4 linked regions of the Homo sapiens genome follow. The protein of the gene in region 2 interacts with the protein of the main gene of each other region in a biochemical or structural test. Each region holds a gene or a part of one and is shown on either strand. Other genes may lie near its edges.

What was found.
Region 1: the proteins of SRI (region 2) and CACNA1C form a complex in vitro, tested with the Homo sapiens proteins (one study listed by BioGRID).
Region 3: the proteins of SRI (region 2) and CACNA1S form a complex in vitro, tested with the Homo sapiens proteins (one study listed by BioGRID).
Region 4: the proteins of SRI (region 2) and ATP2A2 form a complex in vitro, tested with the Homo sapiens proteins (one study listed by BioGRID).

What each region holds. Positions count from the first base shown.
Region 1 is NC_000012.12:2,692,961-2,698,460, forward strand, and holds the end of CACNA1C (voltage-dependent L-type calcium channel subunit alpha-1C), read left to right. Parts: 3' UTR 1-4,990; downstream 4,991-5,500. UniProt on the Homo sapiens protein: Pore-forming, alpha-1C subunit of the voltage-gated calcium channel that gives rise to L-type calcium currents. Mediates influx of calcium ions into the cytoplasm, and thereby triggers calcium release from the sarcoplasm.
Region 2 is NC_000007.14:88,204,585-88,210,044, reverse strand, and holds the end of SRI (sorcin), read left to right. Parts: coding exon 1-62; intron 63-592; coding exon 593-706; intron 707-1,479; coding exon 1,480-1,538; coding exon of another isoform or gene 1,539-1,556; exon of another isoform or gene 1,557-1,850; intron 1,851-3,540; coding exon 3,541-3,567; 3' UTR 3,568-4,930; downstream 4,931-5,460. UniProt on the Homo sapiens protein: Calcium-binding protein that modulates excitation-contraction coupling in the heart. Contributes to calcium homeostasis in the heart sarcoplasmic reticulum. Modulates the activity of RYR2 calcium channels.
Region 3 is NC_000001.11:201,102,405-201,109,440, forward strand, and holds part of CACNA1S (voltage-dependent L-type calcium channel subunit alpha-1S), read right to left. Parts: intron 1-7,036. UniProt on the Homo sapiens protein: Pore-forming, alpha-1S subunit of the voltage-gated calcium channel that gives rise to L-type calcium currents in skeletal muscle.
Region 4 is NC_000012.12:110,340,219-110,347,254, forward strand, and holds part of ATP2A2 (sarcoplasmic/endoplasmic reticulum calcium ATPase 2), read left to right. Parts: intron 1-440; coding exon 441-776; intron 777-2,009; coding exon 2,010-2,230; intron 2,231-3,013; coding exon 3,014-3,216; intron 3,217-4,667; coding exon 4,668-4,753; intron 4,754-5,030; coding exon 5,031-5,164; intron 5,165-5,782; coding exon 5,783-5,900; intron 5,901-5,982; coding exon 5,983-6,252; 3' UTR 6,253-7,036.

The sequences.
Region 1 (5,500 bases), on a different chromosome or scaffold from region 2:
TTTCTATATGTGGTTGGGGGAAAGGGAACAAGTTTTCTTTAGTTTGCACAATGAGCAAAGGTATCACCAGTGTAGTCATTATTCTGCTCTCCACAAACAGGTTTGGACATTACTGTTTTGCATATCTTGTGTTTGCTTACATTTCCCTCAATTTTTCCAAAATCGTTTGCTGGGTATGTTTGTACCGCCTCTTGCTGTGAGAGACCAGGACCTATTTTATTCCAGTCTTCACTCTGTCCACTCTGCTCTGGTCATCTGATTTGGTACTTCTCCAAGAACAGCCCTTCACTGTGAGGTGCAGGGAGGCGTTCTGATGAGCCCTCAGTCACTGGGCCGTCATCCGCATCCCCCATGGAAGAGGTAGCTGGCTTTCCCTTCCCTTCCACCACACGGAATTTTCTCTTTGGCTTCCTTAGGAAAGTGTACACTAACCGGGAGGATAAAATTAAAGTCAGGCTGCTTGGAGGGAGGGGCATCCTCACTTCCGGATTCTTGTTGCTCTACCCAACAAGGACAGCAGGGGCTCGAGAAAGGAACTGGTGAAACCCTGATCCATCTGAAAGTCAACTCTGCGTGCTCCTTTCTCCATCCCTTCCTCACTCTGGAGCAGCCTTTCCTTCAGGCTTGCCCTAATGTTTGGGCTGCCGGGGAGGGGGCCAGGACAAGGGAAGAGGCATCCGGAGCTCACAGTGGGGGTGGGAACAGATTTTTGTGGGGGCATCTCTAATGCTCACTTATATCTCCCTAGAACATCACTCTTTTGGTGCTGTGTCCTTCAAATGTATGTCAACAGTGGTGGCTGAAAAGGGACTGCTTTGGGGAAAACAGGACCCAACCATTCACCCAGAATTGACCCATTAAATCTCTTCCAGTCCTAGTGTTCCCTGAGCCCCTCTTGGCACATATATAAGTAAGCTAGAAATTACAATAAGGGACAGTCCATTCCTCTATGACAGCTTGCTGGACTGATTCATGACAAAGTGGAGAAATGTACTCAATACTCCCCGGTTAACACAGTCTAGAAACAGAGTTTCTTTATGGATATCCACACCCAAGTCATCCAAACTTTCTTGATTCCTTTTCACTGCCATCAAGGTCCTCTAGAAATTGAGTTTAGGTATCATCCTTTGAAAAGTTCCCAAGATTTCTACCAGGAGGTACACACAGGCGTTCCCTGTCTAGGGCAGGAGGACTATCCTAGCTTGACCTTCTGATCCACTAGAATAAGACTGGCGTATGATGCCTGTCATCAGAACAGACTGGCACAAGTAGTGACATCAATGAACCACAGCACAATCTTCCAAGTGATGTCTACTCTCCACCTAAAATGGAATTTTCCCCATGACCTTGTAAAACATAATTGTCACATCTTCCATACCCCTCCTGACAGCCCCCAAGTGTCAGGAGAAAACAGTCAGGGGCTAAGGGCCCAAGGGACTTGAAGAAACAACAGTTTAAGGTCTGCAGTTTGGTCAACTTAATTCTTGTCCTCCGACCAGCCCTGCCTCTTTCATTTCCAGACCTTGGAGAATTTTTCCCAGCTTTGATTCAGAAGGTACTAGTTATAACCCCTTTCCTTCTTCTTAATCCAATAGGCCTCACTCTCACTGGGAAATCCACTCAAAGGAACAAGGCAATGTCTCTCATTCTATTTCCCAGTTCCAAATTCCAGGTGCTTGTCTGGAGTGAAGCTACCCGTTACTTTCTCCCAGCTTTTCTCCACCCAGCATGTCTCCTGCCCATGCAGCTGAAGACAGTGGGGCAACCTCAGGAGAAGCAGACCTTTCCATGCCCAAGTTCATCTCCTGAGCAACAGTGACACCTAGAAAATGAGGACTTTGGAAGTCACCCAAAAGATGGTGGCTACTTTATGGAGTCCTGAAGATACACAGCCACCACTCCTAAAGGCAAAGAAAGAAAACACGAATGTAGGTCAGGGATAGAGTGGAACCCTGGTCATCGGGGTTTTTAGCCTCATCGTGGGAAAGGTGGTAAAGGAGGATGATGGCATCTCCATCCCTAGAGGCCAAGAATTGAAATATCATTGTCAAGGATTAGAAACAATTCAGCAAAGAGGCCACAAAAAGGGCCTGCTGACTCCCAGAAGACCTCTTTAAACCCCAGGGGAGGCAAATACTTGCTGATGGAGTCTGGGCCGTTTCCATATTTTAAAGAAGACCTGCCTCTGGGGCAAATGTCAGCACAGAGAGGACTGGGAGGAGAATGGAGGCAAGAAAAGGGCATATTTTGACTCCCTCTGTGCCTCTTCCCAGTTCATGGAAGGATGTGTTCAGCTTACCCACCCACAGTGACCAGTGTGGTGGAGCCGCTGACATCTCAAGGATCTATTTGGGAAGGTGAGAAGAGTACTCATTCCATCTGGGGGTGTTGTTCCAGCCACATCAGCCTACCTGGTGGGATGTGGGGGTGTCTGCCACCCTGTCCCCCCTCTGCTGATGTCCCTCCCCTCAGGCTGTCCAGGTGCCACCTGACACAGGCTGCTGTGCAAAGACAGGCGGGGAAGCCCAAACCTCACTCCCAGGGAGGCCCTCAGCCGCCAGAGTCCAGGTTCTCCAGAGGCTACGATTTGAGGAGGTTGAGGGGGAAGACAGGAGGGAAAGAAAAGTCCTACAACTGTCAGGAATGGGGCACCTTTCCCTGTCCCTAAGCAAAGCTCCCTCTTCCCACTGCCCTCCCCAGCCCCAGCTCCCTGTCCTCCCCAACACCTAGTGAGAAAGACGGTGCGTGGAAGGGAGTCCCATGGGCAGATGCTTACACGACCTCTTTGTGAAGCCTCTTCTGGGTTTAACTTCATTCATCAATTTATTCTTATGTCAAAGCAATGAAACTTTTCTTTCTGGAGCCAGATACCAATACAACAGGTGAACGGGTTTCTGCCACATCTCTACATTGACGGGGGATGCTTGAACAACCCCCCTCACTACACAGACACACACCGTTAAGGCACAAGGGCTGGGGTTGAGCTCTAGATGAGGGACTTTCCTGCTCCTGCAAGGGTGAGCACTGTATACACAGACAAGGAGGGTGCAGTAGAGTGACTCCCTTGGATGGAAGTAGTACCATCAGAACCTACTATTATTATGACATAAATTCTATTTACATACATTGAGAGAATACTACAATCAACACTTTTTCCTGGGATGACTTTAAGAGGTTTGAGCCACAGCACCTGAAGTGGCAAAGATCCATGGTCTTTGTAGGGTATTAGAGAACTCTTCCAGTCACCTCTGAAAGCACTCTAGATCTTGCAGCTGAGTGGATGAAGTGTAACAAATCTGTTGCACGCTGAGAGGAGTCAGAATTAGCATTTTTCATGAAAGTTCCCCACGTCTCTACTAAGAATGAGGAAGAAAAGACTAAGACTAGGTAATTACACAGAGGCTTGAAATGTTACATCACCAGAGCCAAGTCCTCTCCCTTCAGATCAGTTACTGGCTGCTACACAGGGACACCCCCACCTTTTCAGGGCATCCCATGCACTCCACTTCTCAGGATCTAAGGAATTTGACTTTGTAGGGATCCCAGAAAGGGCACTGTGCCACTTCCCCTGGTGTGAATCAGACATACATTGTACATTCATTTCTAAAATTCACTCATGCACCTCAAACCAAGGTCATTATCCAAAAAAAAAAAAAAAAAGCTCTGGGTGGAAGAGTTTGTAAGTTTTAAGAGAGGGTCATTTCTATGTGAGGAAATGCAGAAATGGACAGAATGATTCTTATTCACTGTTTGGGTCTGGAGAATTCCCATTGTGGAAATCTTAGAGATCTCAAGTTTATTACCAAGGGAATAAGGAAAAAAAGGTGAGCAGGCACCAGGCCAAGCAGTGGCTCCCTTGCCAAGGAACCTGAGGCTGCAGGTTTCAGGGACCCCCTTGAAGAAACCTCTCCTGGCCATTGGCCAGGAGAAAAGAGAAGTCTCTCCTGTAGAGTCACAAGAGAAGCAAAAGAGGGTGGGTCACTGGGTCCTGGACATAGCCCCCAACCCCAAGACTTCCCAATATGGAGAAACTACACCAATGTTTAAAAGGGGAAAAGGAAAGAACTTGTACATCAAGGGAAGATGATTTGTAAACACACAGTCCTGTGCAGAAAGATCCCCTTCAGGAGGTGTCTCCAGCATCCCAAAGCTGTGCGCACCTTCTCTTTTCCTGCCTCAGGCCACCTATGCATCCAGCTGCAGCCCATACCCACACCTGAAATCCATCTCTTGAATCCCAGCCAGGTTATATACCACCCCATTGCCATGTCCTGTCCTGGCCAGAATGCATGCTGTTCCCCCAAGCCTCGTGGGAGTGAGGCCATGGGAAACAGAGATGAGCATGTCTGGACAAGTCTGTGATGGTAGTGGATGAGAATAACCCATGGCAAAACACGCACATTCATTAAGAAATAGGGCGACAGATTCCCCGTTGGTGAAGCACTGAAAGGTCTATTACTCTCATAATATTGCTGTTTTATTTTAATCCACCAGAGCTACCATGCAAAACTTTCCTCCTGTGAAACGCTCCAGATAAAGCTCCTCTAATCTCCCCTTCCCTCATGTCCTCCAGCTCAAACCCACCTTCATCCCCCAAACCAATCTGTATCATGCCTGTTATCAGAGAGGCACAGAAAGATGGGCAGTGCCTCCGTTGTCACCATTCCCCACACCCCTACACACCCCCACACCCTCCCCTCCAGGCTCCACGACTTCACAGTCTTACTGTTGTAAATATCATTGTACAGTTTGTAATCCTCAAATAATCCCATTGTCAGAGGCCTCGCCTGATGGGCCTTCTCACCCTCGAGAAAGGCCAGGGAATCTAGAAGGGGCAACCCTTCAAGGAGAGCTTCAGGGTCATCTCTGTGTGAGACACTATTGTATATTCCTGTAAGATTGCATTTTTATCTAAGGAATGATGTTATTTAAAAAACAAACAAAAAACACAAAAAATAAGAATTGCAAATAAATTTCTTAACAATGTCTACATTGACTTCATTGTATCTTCCCTCTTCCTTATTTCTTCCTTTCTCCTGTTTCCTAGAGGTCACAAATACAAACTTCACTCAGTTATCTCAACTGTCTGGGATCCCCAAAAGGAAGAAGACTGGAGAGAACACAGGAAATATGAATCCAATGATAATACCTAAGTCCATTCAGCAGTTAACCCATCCCCTATTTCTTCCTTCTCATGAAAGAGTTGACAGAAAAATGGCCAAAAGTTAAAAAGGAGACAAAATCAGAGGAATTAAATGGCTAATTCACATGGATTAGACAGGAAAAGCAGTCTCTGAAATTGGTTTTGAAAGGACAGAAGGGAAGAGGGATGGAATGTAGGAGAGAAGAAAGGAGGGGGAGATATGATAATATATAAAGTACTATGAGGACTATACAAATGTAAGATTGCTTTTCTTTTTTTTTGTTATTATAACTTAATCTGATTTCGATAAACCTTTCAGAATAACCCCTTAAGTAAAAATAATTTGTCCCAGAGGAT
Region 2 (5,460 bases):
TGACACTGACAGGAGTGGAACAGTAGACCCACAAGAATTGCAGAAGGCCCTGACAACAATGGGTAGGTATGGCTTACTAGAACTCTCCATTCATTGGTAGAAGTAAGTTGATTTTTATTTTTAAAACCAGGCTGGGTGCAGTGGCTCACACCTGTAATCCCAGCACTTTGGGAGGCCAAGGAGGGTGGATTGCCTGAGCTCGGGAGTTCGAGACCAGCCTGGGCAACACAGTAAAACCCCGACTCTACTAAAATACAGAAACATTAGCTGGGCGTGGTGGCATGCACCTGCAGTCCCAGCTACTCGGGAGGCTAAGACAGGAGAATCACTTGAACACAGGAGGCAGAGGTTGCTGTGAGCCGAGATCACACCACTGCACTCCAGCCTGGGCGAGAGTGAGACTCCCTCTCGTAAATAAATAAATAAATAAATAATTGCTACCTGAAGGCAGTTTCTGTTTTCTTAGAAATTGTGTGTGTTCATAATTAATATGAGTCTGCAGTCTTAAAAAATAAAATAGTGCTTGATTATTTTATTTTTTAATGAGCTTCTGCAATCCTTTAACCTTTTTACTGGATGGCTTTTCTTTTAGGATTTAGGTTGAGTCCCCAGGCTGTGAATTCAATTGCAAAACGATACAGCACCAATGGAAAGATCACCTTCGACGACTACATCGCCTGCTGCGTCAAACTGAGGGCTCTTACAGGTGAGTTCTATAAGGTCGTGTCATCACCACAAGCCAAGACACAGTTTTTATTACATTTCATCTCTCAGTGCTTCTCAACTTTTATTCTTCCCAAATTTTTTCTTGCTTTAGTAGTTTTTTTCAGATTACTATTAAGCATATCTGGCAAAATAATTTTTTGGTTTTTTTTCCAGAATTTATTTTAGATTAGTAAGTAATCTGCCATTAAAATAAACAATTAAATTTTACTAAAATGTTCTAAAACACAATCAGCTAACTTGTGCATTTTTGATCAGATAATAATGAATTTTTCCCCAGAATGTGAAATATTTGGAAAGAGTGAAATTAAAATAAAATCCTTTTCTATAGGGCAGAGCTGAAATGGTAGAGAAACTGATTACAGCCCATTTGTTATATTGGGGACTCTTTATCTGTTTCTTAAGCAGTATCTTTGTTATTAAGAAGCTAGAAATTCGGTGCTTTTATCACAATGAAGTAATGGCCATGGAAGTTGCACAGCTTTTACTGACTTTGGGTAAGGTATTTTCTCCAGATCTAAAAAAACAAAAAAACAAAAAACACAGCTGGCCAACTTCTGCCTGTTACTTTGTTGCATATTAAATCTTTTACTATTCATATAGTTGGCTTCTTTGCTTTGGTCTTTTGTTTATGTTAATTGGTTGCACAATTTAAATGTTACTGCAATGTGAATTCAATGCCAAAATAACTAACTTTTATGATTTTAGAAAAACCATTTAAAGAAAAACCATAAATTTTACTGTGTTGTTTTACAGACAGCTTTCGAAGACGGGATACTGCTCAGCAAGGTGTTGTGAATTTCCCATATGATGATGTAAGTCTTAGAAATTAAGAGATACAGTAGATGAAAAGGATGTACACCAGATGGGTATCCCTTTGAAATTAGCTGTTAAGAATATCTTAAGGTTAAGGATGCCAGAGACATAAGGGATTCAAAAGTTAGAAAGAGTTATCATCCAGAATTTATTAATTTCATTTATTAGTCTTAACTATAGTGAGACCATGATTTGATTTGCATTCAGAGACCTGGGTTCAAGACCCAGCTTGTTGTATTTATTAGCTGGGTCACTTAAGCAGGTTTCTTAATTGCTGTGACACTATATGAATAAAGAAGATATAGTAGTAATGCCTTTTTCACTGAGCCATTGTAAGATTTCTATTAGAAATGCCCTTGAAAAACACTATGCAGATATACTATCTGCTTTTGTCTTCTGTAAACAAATCATGTCAGTCACTGAGAATAGATAACAGCTCAATAGTTTTGCATACCTATGTTCTTCATTGAGGGCATAAGGCAGGCAACAACTTAAATCACAATTTTTTTTTTTTTTTTGAGATGGAGTCTCGCTCTGTTGCCCAGGTTGGAGTGCAGTGGCGCAATGTCAGCTCACTGCAACCTCCACGTCTCGGGTTCTAGCGATTCTCCTGCCTCAGCCTCCTGAGGGACTATAGGCATGTGCCACCATACCTGGTTAAGTTTTTTTGTATTTTTAGTAGAGACGGGGTTTCACTGTGTTAGCCAGGATGGTCTCGATCTCCTGTCCTTGTGATCTGTCCGCTTAGGCCTCCCAAAGTGCTGGGATTACAGGCGTGAGCCACTGCTCCCGGCTAAATCACAATTTAAAACAAGTTATTTACTAAACAGCCAAACTAAACAAGGGTAGGGTAAGGCCATGTAATCAGTGTGAACATAACCTAGTGCCATCTTTGATGGCATTAGCTGGATGTATATAACAAAGCTAGAGAGATTGGTTACTTGTTTCTTCAGTTTTTGCTCAGCCATTGATTTAAAAACAAAAAACAAACAAACAAAAAAACTTGTAGAATTGAAATGACTGTAATCACTGAATATTCCATTCTCCATTACAAAATATAAGATGCATGTATTTTTGGTTTAGCAGCTGCTGCAGTTATAAGTACACTTTTAAAAGCTTAGTATGTGTGTGTGAATATGCTTATTTTACCTGCTTAAGGGTGTGTTCTCTTTAACATGCGTTAACTTCTTAGTTGACAGTCCCCTTGCTGTTTCTAAAGATCAGAAGGCTGCCTGGGGAATGGAAAGAAAGACCATGGGCTTTGACTTCAGATGGGGCTACTTAAAAGATTTCTAAACATCCTGATCCTTATTTTCCTTTTCTCTAAAATAGGGATAATCACCTTGACCTTGCAATAGAGCTGCAAGGGTTAGCAGTGCACAATACCTTAGTAGTGTAGGGAACACTGATAGAGCAGAATCTATTGCTTTATGTTTAGCGGGGAAGCCAACATTTCACAGCAAATACTGGTATTTCTAATCTCAGGTATCTGAAGGGTTAGCTGTTCTGTTTCTGTGCATACATACACTTGCATGCTACAATTTGTTTTAATAAAGCAGATTTTAAGGCAATAAACTGTTTAAGGTGTTCCATTAGAGTAATGGGGTAATACTGTGTGGTTTGGAAATCCCCACGTAATACAACAGTATAAACTCCAGTTGTTTGTGTTTGTGGTAAGTGTCTTTGACCACGGCCATTTCTAGTCTTGGATATTATTTGGAATTTAAATAATTATTCAAATAATTATTTAAATTATTTATCCATTGAAGTTATATCTGCTTTCTCTAAGAAGTTTTGATGTGAGAAACCCTGTGGATTTTATATTAGACTGCTTCCCTAAAAAAAGGAAACTTTTCCATCTATCATTTACTCATATCTTAGAAAGTTGTAGGGGTTGTTTTACCCGTGTTCAAATTAGAAAACCAAATGTAAGCTGCCAGAAATAGGCTGTGCCGTATAAGTGCTTTGAGGTCTGTCATATAATGCTGATTTTTCTTTCAGTTCATTCAATGTGTCATGAGTGTTTAAATCAAGAGGAAGCTGCATGAATGTAATCAACATTCCAACTGGAGCTCTCCTTTGCTTGTCCTCTTTGCCTTCGGTAATATGTATAAACTTACATCACGACTTTCTCTTAACAGCTGTTGTAAAGTTTATTACTTTATGTACAACTGAAGTTTTGTTTTAGTTTTGATAATAAATTCTTTGGAACTTTAATAAGATCTAGTCTGTTACACCATTTAGAACTTTCCTGAGCCATTATCAGTCATGCCTTATTTTCTTGCTAAAACTCTATGTAAATTTAAGTATGCAAAATGTTTAAGTCACATTATTTATTTTTCATTGTGAGACACTAAAAACTGTTAATCAGACTACAGCTGTTATCTTTCCTCTCCTACAAAGAATACTCCACACATAAAAACTTAGGTAAATGACATAGACGCACTTGGGTGAAATAAAACAACAAAAAAGGTAATCCAGTAATCCACGTCAGGATTCACCTTAGAAGTTTAGCACACGCCCTTCAAAACCTGTTGAATAATTTGATTGGCAAATACTATCTGTCACCAAGTCCCTTTTTGTCATCTATTTAAACCTTTGTTAACTCTCCTTAAAAATCTTGTACATTATAAGCTTAACTATATAAAAAGAAAATTGATAGAAAAAGACTAAGGGAATATATGGAAATATTAACAATGTTTATTTTGGATGAATGGAATTCTAGATGACTTTAATTTTCTTTATATCAGTATTTTTCAGATTTTCTATATGCTTTCCTTTTAAAATCAGATTTTAGTTTTTAAAATACTGATACATCCATTTTGATATACCATGTATTCACACTTTAAAAAATACACATAGCAGAGTATCGGAAAGTATGTACCAAAACATTGATCTGGCTACCACTGGGAGTCAGGATCATGAGTTCATCTTCTTCCTTCTTACTGCTTTTCCAAACATTCTCCAGTAAGCAGGTACTACATTTATAATGGAAGGAATTTTTTAAAAAATTTTAAGCTGTACACTTTCAAGTAAGATCTGAATTCTAATGCTGGCTTGTGCCTCTTACTATGTGGTTTGGTCATTATAGATAATGCCCAGTTTCAGTTTCCCCATCTTTGAAAAGGAGATAATATGTTATCTCTTGGGAGTAGTTCTGAATATGAAGTGTGTTGATACAAGAAGCACTGACAATGTTTCTGTTTCTTAAATTTAAAACTGGCCTGGTTTGCCTTTTTTATCAAGAGAGCTTAACAGATAAAAAATGAAATTAGTCTATTTTCTACTTGCCAGCAGAGTATCTGTCTTATTTTAGGATGCAGTGTGAAACTTACCATTCAACTGAACAACTAGTTGTCAACTAATGAAAATAAAACATTTTCTCTAAGCATCTTTAGCCTCATTTCACTATTAATTTTTTAAAATATTGTTAAAATATATATTATTCAAACCTAACATATAACTATGGCAAGTTAGTTAGCCCAGGTTACATATCAGAATGTGAAGCAGCCTGCTATATATTACACAGTGACTATAGATTGCATCATCTCCGTATATTGTCTGTGAGGCCATAAAGCTCTGCTTGAGTCTGGGCTATCTAGAAAAGGGCCAAAAAGGGGCTCAGAGGATTAGGAGGCAGGGAGCTCACCTTCAGTGTCCTAGCACCTGCTGTTTGGTTTCAACTCACCAGGGTCCTCTGAGGAAATCATAGTTTAAGGAAATGGTAATTTCCTGGTTGAGGATAAGCAGTAGAGAAGGCCCTTGCTGAAGGATATGGGCCATATTTGAACAAGTCCCAAGGTGTGCTGCATCAGTTGTGGTTCTGAATTGGCTTTGGGGTGAATACAAAAGCATCCCTCTGACATTATATTAGTTTGTTCGCACACTGCTAAAGACATTACCCAAGACTGGGTAATTTAC
Region 3 (7,036 bases), on a different chromosome or scaffold from region 2:
GGCCCTCGTCAGCCTCGGATACTGTCTCCTACTCCCAACCCTTGGGCCCAATAGAGGAACCAGTTGAAAAGGAAGGCCCGACATATTTCCATCAGCAAGCAACAGGACCACCAACTCCTCCGTGTTGCCCAGCTCCCACTGAGAGTGGACATACAGTCATACCCATACCCAACACGCATCCCAGTCTGTGCGGAGCAGTCCATCATCATCCTCCCTAGCTTCGGACGACAGCCGACTAAGGTAGGTACTCTTATCCCATTTTACAGATGAGGAAGCCAAAGCACAGAGGGATTAATTTCTCCAGGATCACATAGCTACCAAGAGGCAGAGCCATGATATGTATAGACAGTTTGATTCCAGACTCCATGGTCTCAACCACTATGCCAGGCAGAGGGGAGAGAAAGATACAGTATGCCTGGGACACCTGGGTACATTTGTCAGATCCCGCCCTCAATCCACCCCAGGTCTGTCTTTGCCCCCCGAGGCTTGGGTTCAGTGTGACTTCAGCTGTGGGCTGTTAGTGCTGGGAGGTCAGAGAAGGAAGGGAATGAACATTTATTGAGCAACTCTTGTGTGCCAGGTCAGACACGAGGTTGTTGCACTCATGGATATAACAGTCCTGAAAAGAAAGATATTGTGGACCAGCCTGACCAACATGGTGAAACCCTGTCTCTACTAAAAACAAAAAAAAATTAGCCAGGTGTGGTGACGTGTGCCTGTAGTTCCAGCTATGCGGGAGGCTGAGACAGGAGAATTGCTTGAACCTGGGAAGTGGAGGTTGTAGTGAGGTGAAGTCGTGCCACTGCACTCCAGTCTGGGTGACAGAGGAGACTTGGTCTCAAAAAAAAAAAAAAAAGAAAGAAAGATATTGTGGTCCTCTGTTCACAGATGAGGTAATGGAGGTTCAGAGAGTTTAGGAAGCTGCCAACCAGTCTAGATTGGAGGCAGGTTGGTTTGACTTGAGAGGCCGTCCTTTCCTGCGACTCCCCAGGGAGCTAGCAAAGCTTGGGCAAAGGCTTTCCTCCAAGGCTTTCCTCCAAGGCTTCTGTTGTTCAGCTATTACAGTGTCTGCAGCCCCTGTGCCTGGTGTGAAGGGGCATGGGTTGGGATGGGCGGGGGAGAATCTAAGTGCCCTGAAAGGGGACCTGAGTTCTTGCAGTGGTGGGAGGGCAGGCTCCCAGGTGGGTCTAAAATCCAGGCTTTCATTCATTTCCACAGACCCTTTTGGAGCACCATCACTTCTCTGTACAGTGGCCCAGGCTCAAACCACCCTGTGCTCTGCAGGTCCTGGATCTCTAAGGGGTGAGGCCAGAGCTGCGGTCCTTCTGAGGCCCCAGCCTCCCCAGATGGCGAGGGGAATGGGCTGCTGGCCACAAGAGTTGGCGAGCGCATTCCAGACCCTATAAAAAGACAAACGCCCTGGCTGCCAGAGGCTTAGGCTCCAGCCTCGTGGAGGACGCTGCAGCAACTTGAACCCCAGGAATGCGACAGGGGCCTGGTGGAGCCTGCTGATGCCTGAGGGGTGGGAAGCCACCCTGCAGCCCAGGAGGGGCCAAATGGGCAGCCATCTTGCAGAGCTTGCCAGGCCCTGCCCTGCCCTGCCCTGCCCTCGAGGAGAGCAGGCACCATCTACTTAAGAAAAATCTAAATTATCCAGAACTTGGAAATAAAGCAAAGAAAGGATGCCATATCTTTGTAATATCATGTTGGAGCATTTTATAACAGGCCTGGCCAAGGATTATCTAATTATCCAGGTCAGGGTTTCTCAACCTCAGCCCTAATGATATTTTGGTCTGGATACTTCTTTGTTGGTGGGAGGGGGCTGTCCTGTGCATTGCAGGGCCCCTGCCTCTACCCCACTAGATGCTAGTAGGACACATCTCCGCCCCTGCCCCTCCCCCTCACAATTCCAGTTGTTGCCAAATGTCCTCTGGGGCAGAACTACTTCCCCTCCCCAATCCCTTGAAAACCACTGACCTAGGAGGGAATGTAACTTTGTTTAGCTCTCACTATTCTGTCCTCTAGAGATGCAAATGAATTCTGCCTGATAGGAAGATAACCCCAATGGTTAGAGTTTTATTGCCCTGTAGGACATTAACCAGCTTGGTATCTAACCTAGCAATCCTATTCCATCATTCTCTCTCCGGTGTCATAACTTCTGCTGCTCTAATTCCCTTTAACTCAGCTTCACACGCCTGCTTGTTCTCTTTTGAGTTGAACTAATCTTTGATATGTGTTCCTTGGATATTTTACTCACAGTTGTGTTTTCACTTTTTGAACATCATACTTTGACATAGGATTGCTTTGAGGGTGAAATGAGATAATGTAGCAAAAGCAATCAGTTTATCATGTCTGCCCAACAATTAGGAAGTCTGATAATTGTTTTTGCTTTTCCACATTGGTCCCCTCAGCCTGGCCTAGGCTGGAATGGTAACCCTGCCCAATAAAGGATGTAGGCCTGCCCACAGAGCCACCTGGGCATGTGCAGTGATCTAACCTCTCTGCGCTGTGGTTTACTCCTCTGTACAAATGAGAAAAATAAAAGTACCTGCCTCATGGGCATTCAGTGTGATAACACATATAAGGCATTAGAACAGTGACTGACAATATGCAAGTAATCGATAAATATTGAATGTCATTGTTGCTGCTGCTGCTGCTGATTTGCTGGAGGACTGGGGAGGGGTGATCAGGAAAGCCATTAAGAAAAGTTAGGGGTTTCAAGGAGAGAAGACACAGAGTTAAAGAGAAATCAGGGACAAACGATGGGCAGGGTGAAGAGGAATTCTTTACCTGAAATAATCCTTTGGCATAACTGTTGGGGGTTAGACCCTTTGAATCTAGAACAACCTGGGGGTCTCTGTGACTATAGGCTTTTTGGCTGGTGAGCCTGCTCTGTGGGGCCTGCATGATCAAAGTTCCTTCTGTTGATAGATAAAGCACTACAACTTAGAAGGTCTTCACTCATCCAGTTACCTCTCTCAAGTATACAATATCATCCCCATTTTATAAAGGAGGAAACTGAGGGAACAGAAAGGTTACATAACTTGTCTAAGATCACACAGCTAGTAGGTGAGTGGGCCTGGGCTCAAAAGCAGATTCTAGCTCCAGAACCCATTTTTATAACCACCATGCCATAATGGGCTGATTTCAGAGGCCCGTGCCACTGTGACATCCCACAGTTGGCCAGGATGTCAGCATCCTGGATCCTCCTCTTGCCACCCTCTGATCAGCTGCATATTCATTCCCAGGACTCCTTGCTCTCTCTGGGCCTCAGTTTCCTCTTCTATTCAGGGAAGATCCTGGGATTTCCCACAGACACAGAGCAGGCAGAGTCAGAGGTGTACCTCTAGCCCCAGGAAACCCGGGCCCCAAGTCTATTACCCTCAGCCAGTGCTGGCAGAAGGGATATGGAGGGACACTGCCAAGGGAGCCTATTCCCACAGACAGCAGTCACACCCCCGGCCCTGCTCGCACACACGGCAACTGAGGGAAGCCCTTCTTGCCCACAACCATCCCCGCCCCTGCCCCACCCAGCCAGTTTGGCATGTGCCAAAGTGAGGAAACCTCTGTCATAAAATGCTTGGACCTGCAAATCCAATTACCCATCAGTGGACACAGGCACCTGTATCACCACACATCTGAAGTTGAACTCACCACCTTCCTCCTCCCTACCCCCATCTGCAGTCTTGGTAAGTGATACTGCCATCTGCTCTGTCCACTTCTGACCCCCAAGTGTCATCCTCCCCCTCCCCCACACCTCCATCCCCACCTCCAGTCCTCACCATGGATTCCACCTGGCAGGTCTTTCTTAAGGCCACCTCACAGCCATCTTTACCATCACCAGTGCCTTGGCCCAGCCTCCCCTGTTTCCTGCCTGGATGACTTCCCTGGGCTCCCTGCCCCCTTCCCTGCTTCCCATCTCACCCCACGTCACCCCAATCCATGCTCCACATGGGGCCTGAGAGATTTTTCTAAATCCCCCCCTGACCTCTCTGTCTCTTGCCTCCAGCCCTTTGCCCACGTGGCTTCCTCTGCCCAGAATCCCCTCTCCCGCTTGGCCTTCTACAATGCGCTCCTTCACAGCCAGGCTACATAATGGGGGGCCCAGTACAAGTGAAAATGTGGGCCCCCACGTTCAAACAGTAGGAAATGAGTGCTGATGAAGGTACTAAATATAAAGCTTTTCCCTTTCTTTCAGCCCCTTTCTCAGCCTACTGTGGTGTCTTTTGATTGCTGTTCAGTGTTGTGCAGGGCAAGTGCAGATTGCCACAAGCGCCTCCTCCTAATCTTCCCCCTCCACCCTCACCATCCCACAGCCCGACATCCTGTGCCCTGGCCAGAGGTGGAGGTGTGGAGCCAGGCATCTCCCCTTCACTCAGACCCACCACCTCAACCCATAGTGGACATCCGGCACCCAAGGGTGTTGCAATCTCTGCTTCCTGGGAAACAGTAAGTACCCAGAATCGGGGAGGGCCTTGGAGGCTCAACCTCATAGGTCATTTACTGAATGGACTGCAGCAATGTCAGCCCAGGGTAGAGACAACCAGAGCCATGTCCTTCCCTGAGACACGGCCCTTCCCATTCTCCCACTCAGGCCTCTGCCAAGTGGCCCAGGACCCCAGAGGGCAAAACATCAAGCTGAGAGCCCCTCCTTAGAGGCAGGGAGATGGCAGAAGTCAGGACCTTTTGTGAGCCAAGGTTCCAAGCTTGAGGTGCATGTGCCATTGTCCCAATGGACTTCACTTACAAATCATAAATTCAAAGATAAAATTAATTAAAATCTCAATACTTTGACCACAGAGCATTCAACCCCAAATGTGGGGCCCTTCTGAGTGGGAGTCCTCTGGGACTGCATAGGTGGCACTTGTGTGAGCTGTCCCTGTCCTCAACCTTTAGGTCTCAGGTTAAACATCCCATACTTGGGGAAGCCTTCCTGATCTCAAGACTAGCTTAGGTTCTCTGTCAATATGCTACCATAATATCCCCAAATCTTGAACCTTTCCCATTTCATTTTAACTACCTGTTTAATTGGTTTTATTATATTTACTTGTTTAATCCATGTAATGAAGCTCTGTGAAGATGGGAAATGTGTCTATTTGGTTCACAGTGATATCCCCAGTATGTGCCAGGGATGTGATAGACACTAAAGATGCATTCGTTAAATGAATGAGAAAGGTCATGAATAATTAAACCTTAGGCCTCCTTTCTTGAAAGCTACGGGTTATTCTGGATGACTGGAAAGACCCCAACCCTTCTCTGCTACCTACAAAGCAGCCAATAGGGCAAGAGAGAGAGTGCCTACTGCCCTTTTCTACTCTGACTCCTCTCATCTCCCTCTTGCTGGGTTTTGTGGACATGAACAGTGAGGACCCCTGAGCTCGAAGGTGGCTGAGCGACCTTGGGTATCACCGACTTTCTCTGGGCTTCACAATTAAGGGGTCAGGTTAGGAGTCCTCACTGAGCATTCATTTCCCATAGAGCTCTGACATGCCAGGTGGCATTTGCTGCTTTGGAAACATTTCTGATTAGGTTTCCGACTTGCAGGGAACTCATAATACTGTCTCTATGAACTCTAGGCCTAACCCAAGGTTTTGCAACTCCAGCCCACAAACTAAAGAAAAACATACACAGGACCACGTGAAACAGTTAAGGGAGCCAATTTTGTTTCAGGATGGAAGATGACATAACCATTAAGATGTAATTTTTTTTTTTTTTTTTTGAGACAGGGTCTCACTGTGTCACTCGGGCTGGAGTGCAGTGGCATGATCTTGGCTCACTGCAGCCTCGACCTCCCAGGCTCAAGCAATCCTCCCACTTCAGCCTCCCGAGTAGATGGAACAAGAGGCATGCACCACCAGGCCCCGCTAATTCAATTTTTGTAGAGACGGGAGTCTCTCTATGTTGCCCAGGCTGGTCTTGAACTATTGGATGCAAGATTTCTTCACGTCTCAGCCTCTCAAAGTGCTGGGATTACAGGCATGAGTCACTGCATCCAGCAGAGGTAAAATTTAATATCCTCCAAGGTGGGGCAGAGTTTTTTTACAAAAGTAGTCAATGTCACAGGGAACTGAGGCCCAAAAATATGAAATCCTGAAGGGTGGGGTAGACCTAGAGCTCTCCCTGCATTCAGGGACATGGAGACTAACCCTATGGTGTAGAATGCCCAGAGTTTAAGAAATGCCTTCCTTGCCGGCAAAGGTGGCATTGGCCCTGCCAACATTTAATCCCACTCTCCTTCCACACTCAGGAGCTCAGAGTGTTTTCCCCTCATAGCAAGCACACATTTAGAATCCCAGCTTCCCATCAGCTCAAGATAGATTCCCATGGAAACCAGCATAAAGGAAAGGCAGAGATGTGTCAGGCCCTGGACACATGCAAATATGCCTCCTCCCTCCCAGGCCCTGCAGTTTCAGTGCAGGAAAAAAGCCCTGTTGAAAAGGTGGTTCCATTGTTCTGTCCCCTAGGGAGCCTGAGGCCACTGTTTATAAGAGGGCTTCCCCTAGAAGTCTTTCTGCCGTCACCCATCACCTTGGCAACACAGCCTGTACAAGAGCAGGTTCTGGCTAGGTGTGGTGGCTCACACCTATAATCACAGCACTTTGGAAGGCTGAGACTGGTGGATCACCTGAGGTCAGGAGTTCGAGGCCAGCCTGGCCAACATGGCGAAACCCCATCTCAACTAAAAATATGAAAATTATCTGGGCATGGTGGCAGGCGCCTGTAATCCCAGCTACTTGGGAGGCTGAGGCAGGAGCATCACTTGAACCCAGGAGGCGGAGGTTGCAGTGAGCCGAGAGCCGAGATCACACAGCCTGGGCAACAGAGTGAGACTCTGTCTCAAAAAAAAAAAAAAAAAGAGGTTCTAAAATCAGAGAGACCAAGCTGGAGGCCCTACCACAAGATATAGATGTGGGTGACCCTGGGTAATGTGCCTAAACTCTCTGAATATCAGTCTCCTTTGTCTTTTAAATGGGTCTAATAATGTTACTTACCCCACAGGAGTAGTTATAGGGATTAAATAATACAATAATGTAAA
Region 4 (7,036 bases), on a different chromosome or scaffold from region 2:
GTGGTATTTTTTTTTCTCATAAGAAAATGCAAAAACCGCCAGGCACGGTGGCTCAAATGCCTGTAATCTCAGCACTTTGGGAGGCCGAGGCTGGCAGATCACCTGGGGTTGGGGGTTTGAGACCAGCCTGACCAACATGGAGAAACCACATCTCTACTAAAAATACAAAATTAGCCAGGTGTGGTGGCGCATACCTGTAGTCCCAGCTACCCTGGAGGCTGAGGCAGAAGAGTCTCTTGAACCTGGGAGGCGGAGGTCGCAGTGAGCTGAGATTGCGCCATGGCACTCCAGCCTGGGCAACAAGAGCGAAACTCCGCCTCAAAAAAAAAAAAAGAAAAAAAATGCAGAAACCTGTCTCAATGTTTAACTGGGCATTTTTCAAACTAGGGGACAAAAACTAGAACTTGCCACTTTTATTTAAAGTGATGCTCTTATTTTAGACCAATCTGACCTTCGTTGGCTGCGTGGGCATGCTGGATCCTCCGAGAATCGAGGTGGCCTCCTCCGTGAAGCTGTGCCGGCAAGCAGGCATCCGGGTCATCATGATCACTGGGGACAACAAGGGCACTGCTGTGGCCATCTGTCGCCGCATCGGCATCTTCGGGCAGGATGAGGACGTGACGTCAAAAGCTTTCACAGGCCGGGAGTTTGATGAACTCAACCCCTCCGCCCAGCGAGACGCCTGCCTGAACGCCCGCTGTTTTGCTCGAGTTGAACCCTCCCACAAGTCTAAAATCGTAGAATTTCTTCAGTCTTTTGATGAGATTACAGCTATGGTGAGCATGTTTGAACATGTACAGGTGACTCAGGCTACACAAGCACATAGTAGCCTCTAATTTTGACCACTGAATTTTTTTGTCATAGCTCCCTAATTTGGAATTTGTCATGATTTGGGTCTTTTCTCTAGAATTCGGTGAATCAGTGGTTAGCATGTTGTGTGCTACTTGCAGGGAAGATCCTAGAGTCGTTTAAAACCCAGAAGGGCCTTCCAGATCAGTCCCAGAGGAACAATCTGGTGATCTAGTCTCTTTTTTAAATGAGACGTGTTTTTATTGTAAGTTTTCTGAAAATTGAGGATGTAATCAGTCAGTTGTTTGGATCACCCTGCTTTTAAGTTCTTTAAGAGCTGGCTATTGATGAAGCATTTCCAGTATTCTTCCCCTCACCTGATTTTCACCCAGATACATTATGTTAAATTTACTTTCTTCTCTTTTAAAAAAAAATCTTAGTTTTGAAACATACTATAAGTGTACTCTCCTCTCCCCCAGAGGTAACTGAAGTTGGAATTTAGCAAAAATATTAAAAACATGGGAGTGCTGTTTTTGTGTCTGTAGACAGTATTATTTTTGCATGCTTTTGAAGGCATATTTTTTGGCCGAGTGCAGTGGCTCATGCCTGTAACCCCAACACTTGGGAGGCCGAGGCAGGTGAATCACTTGGGGTCAGGAGTTCAAGACCAGCCTGGCCAACATGGTGAAACCCCGTCTGTACTAAAAATACAAAAAATTGCTGGGTGTGGTGGTGGGCGCCTGTAATCCCAGCTACTCGGGAGATTGAGGCAGGAGAATCGCTTGAACCCAGGAGGCGTGCAGTGAGCCGAGACTGCGCCACTGCACTACAGCCTGGGCGACAGAGCGGGACTCCATCTCAGAAAAATAAAAATTTGCATATTTTTGCAATCTGCATCTTTCTACTTGAAATTTATCCATGTGGATACAAGTGCTTCCTCTTGACTGCCACATAGGTTGTGTTTTTGTTTTTAGTAAGATAATACAGATAAATTTGAAGTCCCCTTTGTCCCACTTCGGTAAACTTATTTGGTAATTTTACATTTCCTAGGTAAAATGTGTTTTGTGACACCAACTTATGAAACAAAAATTCTAAAACTCTTTGCCAAGAGACCTACGGCTCTATTCATTTTCCTCCTGCTTCCCATTCAGTGGGCTTTTGCCTAGGGGTATGAATGTGGCATGCCAGTTGGCTGACCCAACCATTGCTTTCCCTTTCAGACTGGCGATGGCGTGAACGATGCTCCTGCTCTGAAGAAAGCCGAGATTGGCATTGCTATGGGCTCTGGCACTGCGGTGGCTAAAACCGCCTCTGAGATGGTCCTGGCGGATGACAACTTCTCCACCATTGTGGCTGCCGTTGAGGAGGGGCGGGCAATCTACAACAACATGAAACAGTTCATCCGCTACCTCATCTCGTCCAACGTCGGGGAAGTTGTCTGGTAGGTCTCTGTGACAGCATCACTTACTGTACGCCTTTATCTAAATGGGTCATGGAGCCCAGTTCTCGCAGTTTGCTCTCCAGATTGCAGCAGCTTTGGTCTTTGTGCCTGAGTTGGAAGAGGGGAGTGGGCAAGACAGAAATGCCTTATGGAAGCAGTGGTGCTTTGGCCCTCGGGAGGGTTGTCTGCAGCTGCCCCAATGTGCAAAGAATCCTCTTTAACGTGAGACTGAGCTAACATTAACCAGGTAGTCACATGAAATTCTTGCCCTCCAAAAGTTGGCTTTATCTCAGTCAGCTTAATAATTTTTTTATTTTTATTTATTTTTTTGAGACAGTCTCGCTGTCGCCCAGGCTTCGGGCAGTGGCACGATCTCAGCTCACTGTCCCCTCCACCTCCTGGGTTCAAGCCTCCCGAACAGCTGGGATTACAGGCATGCGCCACCACTCCCTGCCATTTTTTTGTGTTTTAGTAGAAATGAGGTTTCACCATGTTGCCCAGGCTGGTCTCTTAACTGCTGAGCTCAGCCAGTCTGCCCACCTTGGCTTCCCAAAGTGCTGGGATTACAGGCATAAGCCACCGCACCTGGCCTCAGTCATCTGAATTTAAGTAATAAACTAAGTAAAATTGAGCTTTAATTCAAAATTGGGTATAAGTATTTTACAGATTACCTGAAGTTGTTGTCATTTATTTTTCTGGAGGAGGGCGGGTTGATGATGCTCTTTAAATAGTGGCCAGAAGTCATTTGGGCTCTCTTTGTCTTCTTTTCTTGATTGGAAACAGTATTTTCCTGACAGCAGCCCTTGGATTTCCCGAGGCTTTGATTCCTGTTCAGCTGCTCTGGGTCAATCTGGTGACAGATGGCCTGCCTGCCACTGCACTGGGGTTCAACCCTCCTGATCTGGACATCATGAATAAACCTCCCCGGAACCCAAAGGAACCATTGATCAGCGGGTGGCTCTTTTTCCGTTACTTGGCTATTGGCTGTGAGTACAATTTTTTTATATTACTGATTTTTAAACAAAATGTTTGTGAGCTGAAATTTTGTAAATTCATCCCTTAAAAGCGTGTTTTTTCTTCTATCCCCGTATAGGGTAGCAAAAGACAGAGATGCCCTCTTACAGTTCGATGAACTATACATCCAATTTACCAGAGTCCTTTCACAGTTAGTTCCAGTTTTAGCATCCTGCCCTTACTTGGGCTTTTCTGAATGAGCAATTAAACATCAGGGTTTTCAGATTGAGCCCTCTGTGCAAAGGGATAAGAATGATTCACGCTAGGTTCTGCCTTCCAAGAGTTCATAGGTGGGATTTAAATAGATAATTGTCACCAAGTTATAAAATTTAGTCCCTGTTTCCATAAGAGAAGGGTTGCGCAGTGGCTGGTCCCTTTTATATATAAATCATCTCTTTAGCCCTCATCTTCCTCACCCCGGGTTCTTCCCCATTTCATAGATTGGGAAAGTGAGGTGAAATCACTTCCCTGGGATCCCATAGGAAGGCATTGTGTTTTCATAATATATTCACATGACTTCAAATTCAAAAAGCACACAATGGCATAGAATGGAAAGGGTTTGGGCCAGTCACTTCCCTCTGGCGTTGAGGTGCTCATGTACCCTGTGCCCTTCCGGAGAGATTCCAGCATGCTGTGCACACCTGCATGTTGACCCTTGTCTTGCCTTCTTCCTGCTTGTCAGATCCTTCCATATCCGGACATGCGTAGTGCCTCATCCTTGCAGCCAGCGGCCTTCATGCTCCACTGTAATTCGTGGGTTAGTGGGTATATGCACTTGTTGTTTTTGATGCTACCACATGGGGATATTTGCCTCGTCTGAACTCTGTGTATTCTCTGCTGCACCTTGTTGCTTCTTTGCAATAAACTTCCTGAACTCAAAGCTAATACTGGGGGGAATCCCAGAAGCTGCTGAGGGCAGGGCCATGCTGCTCAGTGTTCCACCCTAGCTCCTGACAGCATTTCCCTAGAAAACTGCTGCTGGGCCTCTAATGGAGCAAATAAATCTGTGTACAACTAGGCAGCAATAGTTTGTCCAAAAGTCCTGGTGTAATCTAGTCCCTCAAACTGTGCAGCCTTACATGGAGTACACACACACTTGCAGCCTTGAAGTACTACCCACTGAGGGGAGAAGGCACGGCAAGGGGAAAGGTTGGCACAGGATGGAGCAAGTGCTTTTTCTCACACATTCTGGAGGAAAAGTTATCCAGTTCTTCTGTTCTAGAAACACCCCTGTCCTTCAGAAACCAGGGTCTAGTTGCTCTGGCTACCAGGCGTGAGCAGGTGGTGGTAGCACCACAGGCCCCGGTTACCATCACTGTCCCATGTCTTTGATCTTCGTCCTTGTGGGGACTGGCCTGCATGGCCTCGGTGGCAGCGAGCCCTGCAGAGGCAAGTGCATCAGCATCACTGTGTTTGTTCCCAGGTTACGTCGGCGCTGCTACCGTGGGTGCTGCTGCATGGTGGTTCATTGCTGCTGACGGTGGTCCAAGAGTGTCCTTCTACCAGCTGGTACTCAGTCACCTTTCTTTCTGTACCTTACATGAGAAGTGTTGTGAGGCCTTGACCTTTCTGTGGTTTCGGTATCTATCAAATCATCTTAAGACTCAGACAATAAACAGTTACATCTAAGATGATTCTGAAGGACCAGGGCTTCTCCGAGAAATTGGGGTAAACCTCTTGGCTGGCTCTGCATTCAGGCTGGTCTGTGCTAGGCTTGGTATGGGGTTGGAGCCTGGACTTGGGAAATATACTGGGCTGATAGGAATTTGATTGGATTTTCTTGCAGAGTCATTTCCTACAGTGTAAAGAGGACAACCCGGACTTTGAAGGCGTGGATTGTGCAATCTTTGAATCCCCATACCCGATGACAATGGCGCTCTCTGTTCTAGTAACTATAGAAATGTGTAACGCCCTCAACAGGTTAGTGCACCTTCACGGCAGGCTGAGGCGAGCATGGTGACTGCCAGGGCACCGGGGAATTGTGTGTAGTCACGGTTGATTGAGGATCACAGGACAGTTCTTCCCTTCCCAAAAGAAAGGAGAACAGGCAATACCAGTTTTAAAAGCATGAGCTGTCGTCACCTCCAGGAAGTAGTGGGAGTGCTTAGCCCTGTGTTTCTTAGGAGCTCTTCCTTAAAAGAAACCGTGGGGGCCAAAAATAGGAACTTTGGTACCCCTGTATGCCAGCACCCACAGGGAAGGAACCTCACCCTTTCACACAGACAAATGGTACCATCCAGTTAAGCCCGTGACAAAAATGGAAATTTCTAAATAGCCCAAGTCTCCAGGGCAATTGGGAACAGCTTTGAACCCACTAAGATGGGGTCTGCTATGCCAAAACATAGATACAGAATTCACAGTTTGTCCTGCATTAGGACATTCTCTTCAACTTTGCCACTGTAGAAAGTGGAGGTAGGTCAGCGGATGGTGCCACATTAACAGCCGCCTTACTGAAGTGTAGTCCAACAGGGTCTTACTGCCACTGTGACACGTGCCTTGCCTTGGGGGTGCGTTTCCCCACCTCTCCTTGCTCTGCAGCTTGTCCGAAAACCAGTCCTTGCTGAGGATGCCCCCCTGGGAGAACATCTGGCTCGTGGGCTCCATCTGCCTGTCCATGTCACTCCACTTCCTGATCCTCTATGTCGAACCCTTGCCAGTAAGTGGTTGGGTGGGGCTTGGGACCAGCCACCTCCTTCCAGGGGAGGCTGGAGGCGTGACACGTCTTCCCTGTGTGTCAGCTCATCTTCCAGATCACACCGCTGAACGTGACCCAGTGGCTGATGGTGCTGAAAATCTCCTTGCCCGTGATTCTCATGGATGAGACGCTCAAGTTTGTGGCCCGCAACTACCTGGAACCTGGTAAAGAGTGTGTGCAGCCTGCCACCAAATCCTGCTCGTTCTCGGCATGCACCGATGGGATTTCCTGGCCGTTTGTGCTGCTCATAATGCCCCTGGTGATCTGGGTCTATAGCACAGACACTAACTTTAGCGATATGTTCTGGTCTTGACTGACAGTTTTCCATAAAGAAGATGTTTAACTTAATCAATTAATTTTTTTATTGTTTAAAGCAACTGTCTATTTCTGCTGAATTTTCACATGAACATACTGGCTGGTGATGGAGGTTTCATACTCTAGATTTTGTTTTGCTTTTTCTGACTCCAGTGGGGCAAGATTTTCCTTTTTTATACACATAATTAAAGTGTCCATTGACATGTACAGAGAACTAACACTATTTTATGCAAATATTTTTTTGTAGATGAAAAAGCATGTACAGTGTTCTGTTTAATACTCATCCTTGTATAAAAAAAATAGTTGAGCCAGCAGACATTGTCAGCAAATTAATTGGCAGCAGATTTTAGGAAATGAATGTGTGTGGTTTTTTTTCTAAAACTAAATAGCATGTATTGTGTCTTTTGCATGATGATCCGGATTTAATTTGATATCACAGTCTAATTTTTATTCATAAGCCAATTTTTCTGCACTGAGCAGAGTCTTGCTACCTCAGTCAGTATTGTTTTGGTTTGCTACTTCCCTCACCCACTTTGGCCTCCGTTCACCCCACCCCACCCCACCTCTCCCCACCTTACCCCCGCCCCGCTTGGCTTCTTCTTTAGGATTGTGATGGTTCGTTCTGTTTACATCAGTTTTAACGAGAGGTATGCCTGTACTCGCTTGTGCAGAAAACATTGTTCCAGATTCAATCGACTGGGTTTATGTCCCTTCACATAGTTTTTAAGGTTATTTATTTAAATGTCTAATGTATTTTATTGTAACAGACATTGTTTTGCCAA